Regions from separate parts of the Homo sapiens genome. Here region 2 is linked to region 1. Evidence: fine-mapped expression QTL. A gene starts in region 1. The other region holds a variant in brackets. All regions are shown on one strand. Distances are between the middles of the regions.

Region 1 (5,370 bases):
CTGTGCCCACGGGGGCATCCTCGTTGGGCCCATAGTATGTGACCGAGACCTGTGGAGACAGCATCCCGAAACCATAGGCAGTGTTGGACGGGAGGTGCCAGGAACAGAGCCCCAGGCCATGTGCCGAGTCTAGGCGTGGGATCTTGGTCTTGTGTTATGGCTTCTGAAGTCTCACCTATGAGCTGGTATGGGGCCACAGCCCTGCGCTTAGGGCTGAGTCAGTCCCCTAAGGACTTAGAACCTGCCATGACCCCCAACCCTAACCTTGTCGAGAGCCAGGCTTGAAACCACCTGTCCACGTGAGAGCTGTATCCCTGATGGCGGGGTGATCAAGGGACTTATCCCAAAGGGATTTAAGAAACAGGCTGCCTGGCTCTAGAGCCCAAGCTTGAAACCACACTATACATCCTCCCTGCTAAACCCACTCTCCTGGGGTCCCATGTCCTACTCCATAAGGTGCACGGTGGGGAAACAGGCCTCTGGTGGCTTAAGCTGCTCACTAAGAAGGACACCCAGGTGAAGAAGCAGCGTTGGGACTCAGTCCCAACTGTGGGACTGTGTCCCACACCAGCCTCTACTTTATGCTTTTAGAAAGAGACCTGCCCTCCAGCCACTGACCCTGACCACAAGGTCTTGGTCATGAACCAGAGACCCAACCATTGGCCAGAGCATGTGACAGATCCACCCCATCCTTAAATAGAAGCTTTAGTCCTCTAAGTTCAAGGTTCTTTGTTGGCCACTCCTGAGGGTCCTGGAGGCCGAGCCCTGGGCAGAGAATGGTTCTCAGGTAGTCTGGAGTTCCACTGGCACCCACCGTGGCCTCCATTCTTATCTGAGATACCTTTTTTTGCGATGGAGTTTTGTTCTTGTTGCCCAGGCTGTAATGCAGTGGGACAATCTCAGCTTACTACAACCTCCACCTCCTGGGTTCAAGCGATTCTCCAGCCTCAGCCTCCTGAGAACCTGAGATTACAGGCACCTGCCACCACACCTGGCTAATTTTTGTATTTTTAGTAGAGACAGCGTTTCACCATGTTGGCCAGGCTGGTCTCAAACTCCCGACCTCAGGTGATCTGCCCATCTCAGCCTTCCAAAGTGCTGGGATTACAGGCATGAGCCACCACACCTGGCCAGAGACACTCAGTTCCTACCTAAGTCCACTACTTGCCTCTCAGGGAGTTGCCTGCCCTGGGCACACAGCGCAGGTGGGTGTGTGTACCTACCCCTCTGCAGCAGACATCTCCAGTAGGTCCTGTAGGGTGTGGGGGGAGGGAGGGAGAGCTCTCCCAGTCCTGAACTGCTCCATCATGGTTCTCACCCCCAGCCCCGCACTGGGTGCACCTGGAGAGCTTTAAACCAGCGGCCAGGATCCTAGCCCTGAGGTTCCATTGGTACCTCAGGTTTAATTGGTAGAGGGGGTGTGGCCTGGGTATTGATGTTATTAGCTCCCCAGTGGTTCTCACCTGCAACCAAGGTTGAACACTCCTGCCCTGAATGAGCCACCTGCTTCTACCACAGGAGAACCTCCCCAACATAGGCACCCCATTAGGGAGACAGCTTACCCAGGGGAGAATACACCCTTGGGCTCAAGCTCAAATCCTGGGTCTATCCCACTCTAGGTAGGCTACTTAGGTTTAGACACAGCACTCTGTGCCTTAGTTTCCTCATATGTAAAGTGATGGTAGGCCAGGTGTGGTGGCTCATGCCTGTAATCCCAGCACTTTGGGAGGTGGAGGCAGGTAGATCACTTGAAGTCAGGAGTTTGAGACCAGCCTGGCCAACATAGTGAAACCCTGTCTCATACTAAAAATACAAAATTAGCCGGGCATGGTGGTGGGTGCCTGTAGTCCCAGCTACTCGGGAAGCTGAGGCAGGAGAATTGCTTGAACCCGGGAAGTGGAGGTTGCAGTGAGCTGAGATTGTGCCATTGCACCCCAGTCTGGGCAATGAGCGTGAGACTCAAAAAAAAAAATAATAATAAATAAATGAAAATAAAAAATAAATCCCAGTCCTGCTGGTTGCTGACTTGGCAGGGCACCTTCGCTAGGTGCCTCTGTTTCTTTGTAAAATGGGGTCATGGAGTGCCCACACCACTGGTCTGTTGCAGACACTGGATGAGATCAGACGTGCAAAACAACGTGTTTCCCAGGCTCGAGTCACGTCTGCAGCCAGGAGGAAGCCCCAGTGGCTGTGCTAGGTCCCACCCCGGGAGATGCCCCTCACCTCTTCCCCTGAGGCTTACCTTATCCGCATCCACGGAAGGGCTGGGCGATGTCATCTTCACTGTGGCGTACGTGGGATCAGACAGGGGCCACCAGATGGTGGCGTCCTCCTTCTCAGAAATCACCGTGTTGGCCACATCGATCAAGACCCTCCCAGAGCCATGGATGGTGAAGCACTGGCACTTCTGGGGGGCACACCTGGTTTGCCCGGTAAGAGACACGCGTCAGGGCACAAACACCTTCTCAGCCTAGGAGATGACTGGCATGGGGGAGGGGACGGCTCCCGAATCCTCATTCTCCTTAGGGTGTTGAGGCAGAGTGGTCTGGGGTCCTTATTCCTACCCACCCCCTCCCAAAGGACCCCTGTGTTTGCTCTCCGACGGGCTCCAGCCCAAACCCCATCCCGCTACCGACACTGCAGAAGTTACCACAGCTACATCTTAGTAATAAGCACCCAATTCCCAAGAAGGGGGGAGCCACAAAGGATCCCCATAAAGAAAAAGATCAGGGCAAGCGACTCAGGAAGTTGTACTGTGACCCTGCTGAGTCACCTCCACCTGCAGGCTCCAGCATCTAGCAGTCTCCCTGGCCTGCTCCTCACAGCCCCCCGAGGCCAGCGTCCCCATGGTTTCACAGATAGGGGAACAGAGAGGCCAAGGCCCTTGCCTCACTAAGAGTCCATGGCAGCTGCTACAGGGCAGAGGCAGGATTTAAGTCAGAATTCTGCGTGGTTGGAACTGGGAGGCCCCCCACTAGAGACCCAAGGCTTCCCAAGATGGGGCAGGATAGTGAGGCTAGAGAAGTAACCCCCAACTCCCAGATCAAGGGGACTGGGTCCCAGGCCTGCCTGCCTGTCTGCCTGCCACCTCTGGCAGAGCTCCCAGCATCTCACCCGCTGAGATCCAAGCAGATTTCTGTGCCCAACACACAAACGGCATGGACAGGGCTGTCCAGGGACAGGTGGATGATACTCTGGAAGGACATGGCTCGGCCCTCCACGCTGACCATCCTCAGGCCTGCACCGCAGCCCTCACTCAGCACAGCAGCCTCAGACGCCCCAGGGCTCACCCTGCCCTTCCCTGTTATACAGTCCAGGCCTGTGCAGGCCACCCCCTTGTTAAGAAGGGGAGGGGTCAGCAGCTGCCCAGGTGTCACTGATTTTCCCTCTAAGAGCTTCCTGGTGGCTGATAGTCTGGGGAGCAGGTGGCATCAGAACCCCTTCATCACCAATTTATCAGGCACCTCGTGCCTGCAGAGCTGCAGGCCAGGGGAGTCTGAGGCCGGTTGCTTAGGCATCTGTGGCCTTCAGCTGGGAAGAGGAGGGGCTCTGGGAAGTCGGTGCCTTGGAGTGATCAACTTGGCCATGTTGCTGGAGGACTCAGCTGGAAGCTGTCGGGGCAAATACCTGCAGAGGGCAGTTGGGAGGAGTTGATGGTAGCAGTCAGGATGGCAATGTGTGGCAGCATGCCCAGGCTCTGGGGTCTCAGTTCTAGGGTGTGTGTCTCCTGGAAATTGACGAAGGAGCTCGGCAAAGTGCTGGACTGGTGGTTTGGTTTTGTTTTTGAGACAGGGTCTCTACCCATGCTAGAGTGCAGTGGCGCAATCATAGCTCACTGCAGCCTCAACCTACCTGGCTCCAGTGATCCATCTCAGCCTCCCAAGTAGCTGGGACTACAGGTGTGCACCACCATGTCCAGCTGATTTTTGTATTTTTTGTAGAGACCGGGTTTTGCCATGTTGCCCAGGCTAGTCTCGAACTTCTTGATCCCAGAAATCCTCCTATCTCGACCTGCCAAAGTGCTGGGATTACAGGCGTGAGCCACAGCGCCTGCCTAGACTAGGTGGTTATTAACCCTCTGGTGGTTTCAAAAATTATCAAGGGTGCTTGTTAACATTGCAAATTCCTGGGCCCAGAAGGTCTAGGGTGTGGTCCAGGAACCTGCATCCCAACCCCCAGTGATTAAGGTGAGCTCTTTGCTTACAGCTGTGTCGGTGGGGGTGGGGGCACAGCAAGTGTTAGTGGAATGAATACATCAAGCCAGGGTCATCAGCTGCTACTCATCTCAGCGGAGCCCACAGAGCAAAGAAATAGGAACCCTTCTCTGGCACAAGGAACTTACATAACTGACTTTAAAATTGTGTTCATTTCATGTCTTAAGCTTGGGTTGAGTTTTTTTTTGTTGTTGTTTTTGAGACAGGGTCTCACTCCGTTACCCAGGCTGGAGTGAAGTGGCGTGATCATGGTTCACAGCCTTGACCTCCCAGGCTCAAGTGGTCTTCCCACCTCAGCCTCCTGAGCAGCTGGGACTACAGATGTGCACCACCATGCCCAGCTAATGGTTTTACATTTTTCCGCAGAGATGGGGTCTTGTTATGTTGCCCAGGCTGGGTCATGCTTACTCCTGAATAGGTACCACAGTCACATGATTCCAAGTTCAGAGTCTCCCTCCTGCCCTGTGCCTTACCCACCTGCAGGTGGAGGTAGTGACAGTGTTACCCGTTTCTTATATGTCTTTCCAAATAAATGTTATGCATGACCAAGTAAATATGTGTGTGTATCCTTTTCTTCTTCTCTTCCTCCTCCAATACTAGCATACAGTTAGATAAATTTGAAGGGGCTTTATGGTGAGAAAGGGAAGGACGTGGAGTCTATTTTAAGGTTAAGGGAAAAAGGCTTCTGCAGGTTCCTTCGAGGTTACATCTCGAGACTAAAGAGAAAAGTTGTAAAATGTGCTCAAAGTTAAGCTGCTTGGTTACAATTACAAACTTTTCAGTTCAGTGGAGATGCCCCTGGAAGCCCATTGGGTTATCTTTTTTGAGGAAGGACAAGGAGGTCATTTAGTCATTTGCTCCACTAGAATTGCTGAACACCTACTATGTCCGGGGCGCTTTTGCTCTTTTCTTCTCTCCTCCTACTACTGTCTTCTTATATAAACGGTAGTATGTGCCACCCAGTATTCCATACCTTGCCTCTTTCACTTCATAGTTATACTGGAGAGAAGTTCTTTGTATCAGTACGTAAAAAGCAGCCTTACCCCTTTGTACAGCTGTGTATTTTACATAGGGTTGTACTGTAATATAAACATTTGTTTTCAGCCTTTGCTCTAATATGCACCCAGGTGTACCCAGCATAGGAGGTGGAGATGAG
Region 2 (5,370 bases), 20 kb before region 1:
GCCAGCTTTCTCAGCTGGACATGGTGGCTCATATCTGTAATCCCAGCACTTTGGAGGCCGAGGCAGGCAGATCCTCTGAGGTCAGAAGTTCGAGACCAGCCTGGCCAACATGGTGAAATTCCATCTCTACTAAAAATACAAAAATGAGCCAGGTGTGGTGGCATGTTTCTGTAATTCCAGCTACTCAGGAGGCTGAGGCAGGAGAATTGCTTGAGTCCGGGAGGCAGTGGTTGCAGTGAGCGGAGATCACGCCACTGCACTCCAGCCTGGGTGACAGAGCAAGACTCTCAAAAAACAAACAAAAAAAAAAAAAAACAAGAAAAAGCCAGTTTTCTCTCCAGAATCTTCCAAGATTCCCCAACAGAAGGCAAGGGTCAGATGTCCCTTCTCCAGACCCCAAAGCAGACCTTTTTGCCCTCATTCTTGTCATCTGTGGGGATGAAGCACATGAACTCATCCACGTGGCCAGTCATTAGCCAATCTGAGTAGAGCTCCACCGGCGCTTGGACCTGCTGGGCATAGAGGAAGTCTCGGAGGGTCTTACTCATGGCCCGGCCCTCTGCGCTAGAAGGAAGATGGAAAGAACAGCTCTTGAGCCAGTGTGGCCCAGGGCTGGTCACCCGCCACTTGGTGTCATGCTGCCTCCAGGGAGCTGGCCTCTGACCGTTGTGTGAAAGAGGCCGGTCCATAGCGGATGTGTTGGTTACGAATCCCTTACTCTGACCCCACTCAGAACAGAGCCTAGTGTTTCTAGACAGACAAGCCCGGGCACAAGTATCATTTTGGATTTATGGCCACCAAGAAATCCAACCACATATCTCTTGGAAATGACATCCTGGTGGACCAAATTTCACTTGTTTCAGTTTAAACCCTGGAATCAAAGAATAAATGGTTTATTCTCATCTTTAGTCTCCCACGTGAATCAAAAGCTCAAATGTCTTCAGTTTAAGAAATGGTCCAGTGTGTGTGACCTGCTGAGGTGCTATGGGAAGCAGGCGGGGCCAGGGGAACGACCATGGTCCCTTCCTTTCATTTGGAGGCGTCTGGCTTTGTGGCTCACCTGGGGTAAAAGCTGCTGCCAATGAGGACTCTGCCCAGCGGGTACTCTTTCCCTTGGACCTTGACAGGTGGGGACACCATCAGGTTCCCAATGGAATCCATGCTGGCCACTTTATGGTCCTCAGTGTCCTGGATCATGTAGCCAATACCAGGGCTCTGGGGGAGAGACCGAGCCAGGGAAGGGGTGTTAGTAGGGGATGGCTTTAGGCCCCAGTCTTATCCCTAAATCCAGGCTCTCAGGTAGACTTCCACGTCCCCTCCCCCCTCAGAGGCCACCTGGGCCCTCTCCCCACTTGGTGCCCCATTATTTCTAGGCAGGCCCCAGGCCTGAGAGATTGGACTGAGCTCAGATTAGCCAAACCAAGTTCCACACCAGTGAGTACTTCATGGGGAACTCATCGAGATCGGCGGCCTGAGGTGTGTCGAGGATCAAGGACGTTGTCTTGTGGGGAGCCTGGGTGTAGCAGAAGGCCATCTCATCCTGGAATGGAGAGGAAGACAGATTGTTTGCCAGTCACACATCTCCCCGGACCCCATTTACGGAAAAGGTACGGTAAGAACCCCCTTCCTTCCTGCCAACTCCTGCTCAACCCTCAACACCCAGCTCAGATATCACCCCTTCTTGAAGGCTCTCCGATCCCTCTCTCCCCTACTCTTCAGGTTTAAGACTTGAGCATCCATGGCCAGGTGTGGTGGCTCACGCCTGCAATCCCAGCACTTTGGGTGGCCAAGGTGGGTGGATCACTTGAGCCTAGGAATTCAAGACCAGCCTGGGAAACATGGTGAGACAGTCTACTTAAAACAAAACCAAAAAGTTAGCCAGGCATGGTGGCTCATGCCTGTAATCCCAGCTACTCAGGAGGAGGCAGAGGCTGCAGTGGAGCTGAGATCGCGCCACTGCACTCCAGTCTGGGCGAAAAAGACTTGAGCATCCAGATTCTTCCTTTCTTCTTTCGTAAAGAATCCATTAACAAGCCTTACTGGCTTACATTCTGAGTCAGCTCTGCGCTGGTGCCACTCAGGAAGCCACCGTGTCTCCACCCTATGCCACTGTGATGCCTTCCAGTTTCGCTTCTATTCTTGCCTACTCTTAAGATCTGTTCCCTAC[A/G]TCTTAGCCAGAGGGGTCTTTTGAAAACCTGAACTATAACCTTTCATTCCCGATTCATGCTTTGAGTGTCTCTTGTTTGTCCTTAGCTTAAAAGGTACCTTAACCAGGAGGTAGCCCTGCCTTTCACCTTTGTTCACTGTGATCTGTCTGCATCAGCCTTCTTCAAGACCTCCAAGCACAACCCCAGATTTTTTTTTTTCTTTTGAGACAGTCTCGCTCTGTCATCCAGGCTGGAGTGTAGTGGCGTGATCTAGGTGCACTGCAACCTCCGCCTCCTGGGTTCAAGCGATTCTTCTGCCTCAGTGACCAGAGTAGGTGGGACTACAGGCGCGCGCCACCATGCCCGGCTGATTTTTGTATTTTTTTAGTAGAGACAGTATTTTGCCATGTTTTCCAGGCTGTTTTAAAACTCCTGACCTCAAGTGATCAGCCTCCCAATGTGTTGGGATTACAGGCTTGAGCCACTGCACCCGGCCAGGAACTCCTTTTAATCCTGGCCACCCCTGCCCCAAATCTCTGCATGGCCAGCTCCTTGTTTCCTTAAGTTTCATTTGCAGATTTTCCCAACTATTCTTAAACTGCCTCATTTGGTCTAATGAATCACTGTATCATCTCATTGTCTAAATTTCATAGCACTTAAAAGTTCTATCCTTGCTAACATGGGACAGCATATGTTCCAGTTTATCTCTGGTGCTCAGGATGGCGTGCCTAGCATGTGATGATCACTCATCTGCAGAGGACAGAGCTCTAGAACCGAAGGCTGACCGGGGCTCTAGACTTGGTGCTGTGCCAGAGTCAGGCGGGACCCCAGGGCAGTGGCCCAGCTCTCACAGCCTTAGCCAAAGGTATCAGAGCCTTCCGGGGCCTGGGGGTTAGGGTTCTGTGGTCTTGAACACGTGTCCATTCTGGAATGGGAAGGAGGCTGGACTCTAACTATTCCTTAGTGGCCATGACTCAGGCAAATCCTCATCTGAGCCTCCACTGAAGTCCTAAGAACAGGGCCGCCCCTATCAAGGCTTCGGTCTTTAAGGTTAACCAGAAGCCTGTGAAGTTCCTCTTAGGTGGCACATGCTGAGTCTCCCCACCCCTCCCCGACAGGTGGGTTCCCAGGTGGGGTGTTACCTGGAGCCACCTGCCCAGGCGGTTGGGGTCCTCATAGACAGATGCCACCTGGCTGTTGCTCTTCTCACTCAGCTTCGTCACTGTGTCCACAAAACCCTGCAGCTGCAGCTCCCTGCCATGGGAGAGAAGCCAGTTCTGGGAAGGCTTTCGAAGGTCCCTTACTGGTTATGACCTCCTTGTGCCAAGAGAGGAAGAACACATCCTTCTCACCAGGAGAGGTTACATCCCTGCCCGTGAGGTCGACAGAGCAACCATCCCTGACCTCGGCACAAGCCAGAAGCTCAGAGCCCATCTTGTCTGACACTACTCAGCTTTGCCCATGGCAGAGCCAGGTTGGGAAGTGCCAGTGGCGGCCCCTTCCCTGGTAGCCAAGGCCTGCTCTGTTTATACCCTTCGGTCACATTCTGCAAGTACCCTTCCTTTCGTTCTGTCACCCAGGCTGGAGTGCAGTGGCATGATCTGACTCACCGCAACCTCCACCTCCTGGGTTCAAGTGAGTCTCCTGCCTCGGCCCCCCACAGTAGCTGGGACTATACGCCTGCCACCATGCATGGTTGTCATTTTTATATGTGTGGCGTTGGGTGGGTCTTGAGCCCTGGGGTCTTCAAGCCGTTGTGCACAGCATCAGGCTCACAGATCTACAGTGGCCATCCCTTCCTTGAAGGGAAACAGCAGTGTGTGAGGCTGATGTTAAGACCACTCATCTGGCCGGACGCAGTGGCGCACGCCTGTAATCCCAGCACTTTGGGAGGCTGAGGCGGGCGGATCACCTAAGACTGGGAGTTTGAGACCATCCTGGCCAACATGGTGAAACCCCATCTCTACTAGAAATACAGAAATTAGCTGGGCGTGGCAGTACATGCCTGTAATCCCAGCTTCTCGGGAGGCTGAGGCAGGAGAATTGCTGGAACCCTGGAGGTGGAGGCTGCAGTGAGCCAAGATCACACCACTACACTCCAGTCTGGGCAACGGAGCGAGACTCCATCTCAAAAAGAAAAAATAATAAATTATCTTAAACAAACGGAACAAACAGGTCCTCAAAAGTTGGAGGTCAGCAAGGCCCTAATATTGGGAGATATTGAAATTGGGACTGTAGTCCGGCTTCAGGTCCAAAGCTCATGTTGCTACTAATAGAATACAGCAATGTAACTACTGGCATAGCACATTCATAGTATCTATGCTACTGCTCCAAAGAACCTATTTCTTGGGTCTATGCAAAGCCACAGGGAGCTACCAGCCTGACAAGGTCTAGAACAGTCTGACGCTTACTGGGGGAAGGGTGTGTCGGCTCAGTCTTGCAGGTCATATGCAGCTATATGGGGTCAAACCATGCCTGAATATCACACTGTATGGAAGACTTGGGTTTCTTTGAAGAACAAGTAGATGCCTCCTGTGAGTGAGAAACCCGTCTTCAAATACTCGAGATACCACATCTCTCTGCTTTATGTCTTTTGTATCTGCCATCAGCAGAATCCCATCAGACTTTCTGAGATTTTACCTTCTCATCCTGAAGCCTGCTATTCCTCTGAGGACCACACTCCCCAGGAGCCCTGCCCTGGAAAAGCTGTCTGGCTTCTACACCCACGGAGCCTGGAAGAGGGGTAGAAGTCTTTTTTTTTTTTTGAGATGGAATCTTATCTGTCACCCAGGCTGGAGTACAGTGGTGCAATCTTGGCTCACTGCAACCTCCGCCTTCTGGGTTCAAGAGATTCTCCTGCCTCAGCCTCCCGAGTAGCTGGGATTACTGGGGTGCACCACCATGCCTGGCTAATTGTTTTTTGTATTTTTAGTAGAGACGGGGTTTTACCATGTTGGCCAGGCTGGTCTTGAACTCCTGACCTCAGGTGATCCGCCCGCCTCAGCCTCCCAAAGTGCTGGGATTACAGGCATGAGCCACCACACCCAGCAATTTTATTTTTTGTTTTTGAGACAGTTTCGCTCTTGTTTCCCAGGCTGCAGTGCAGTGGGGCTATTTCAGCTCACTGCAACCTCTGTCTCCTGGGTTCAAGTGATTCTCCTGCCTCAGCTTCACTGAGTAGCTGGGACTACAGGCATGCACTACCACATCTGGCTAATTTTTG

What was found.
Region 2: its variant is fine-mapped to the expression of PADI6 in whole blood (INTERVAL, PIP above 0.99).

What each region holds. Positions count from the first base shown.
Region 1 is chr1:17,370,106-17,375,475 of GRCh38, reverse strand. PADI6 (peptidyl arginine deiminase 6) reads right to left here and starts at 3,280. Exons shown (of 16, transcript NM_207421.4): 1 at 3,115-3,280; 2 at 2,243-2,420; 3 at 1-49. The coding sequence starts at 3,230.
Region 2 is chr1:17,390,145-17,395,514 of GRCh38, reverse strand. It overlaps PADI6 (peptidyl arginine deiminase 6), which reads right to left. Exons shown (of 16, transcript NM_207421.4): 9 at 3,290-3,401; 10 at 1,433-1,540; 11 at 1,061-1,215; 12 at 408-564. Among named protein-coding and RNA genes, the nearest start is that of PADI6, 21 kb to the right of the region's middle. RefSeq lists an enhancer at 595-1,794. The variant A/G (reference allele first, on the strand shown) is at 2,168.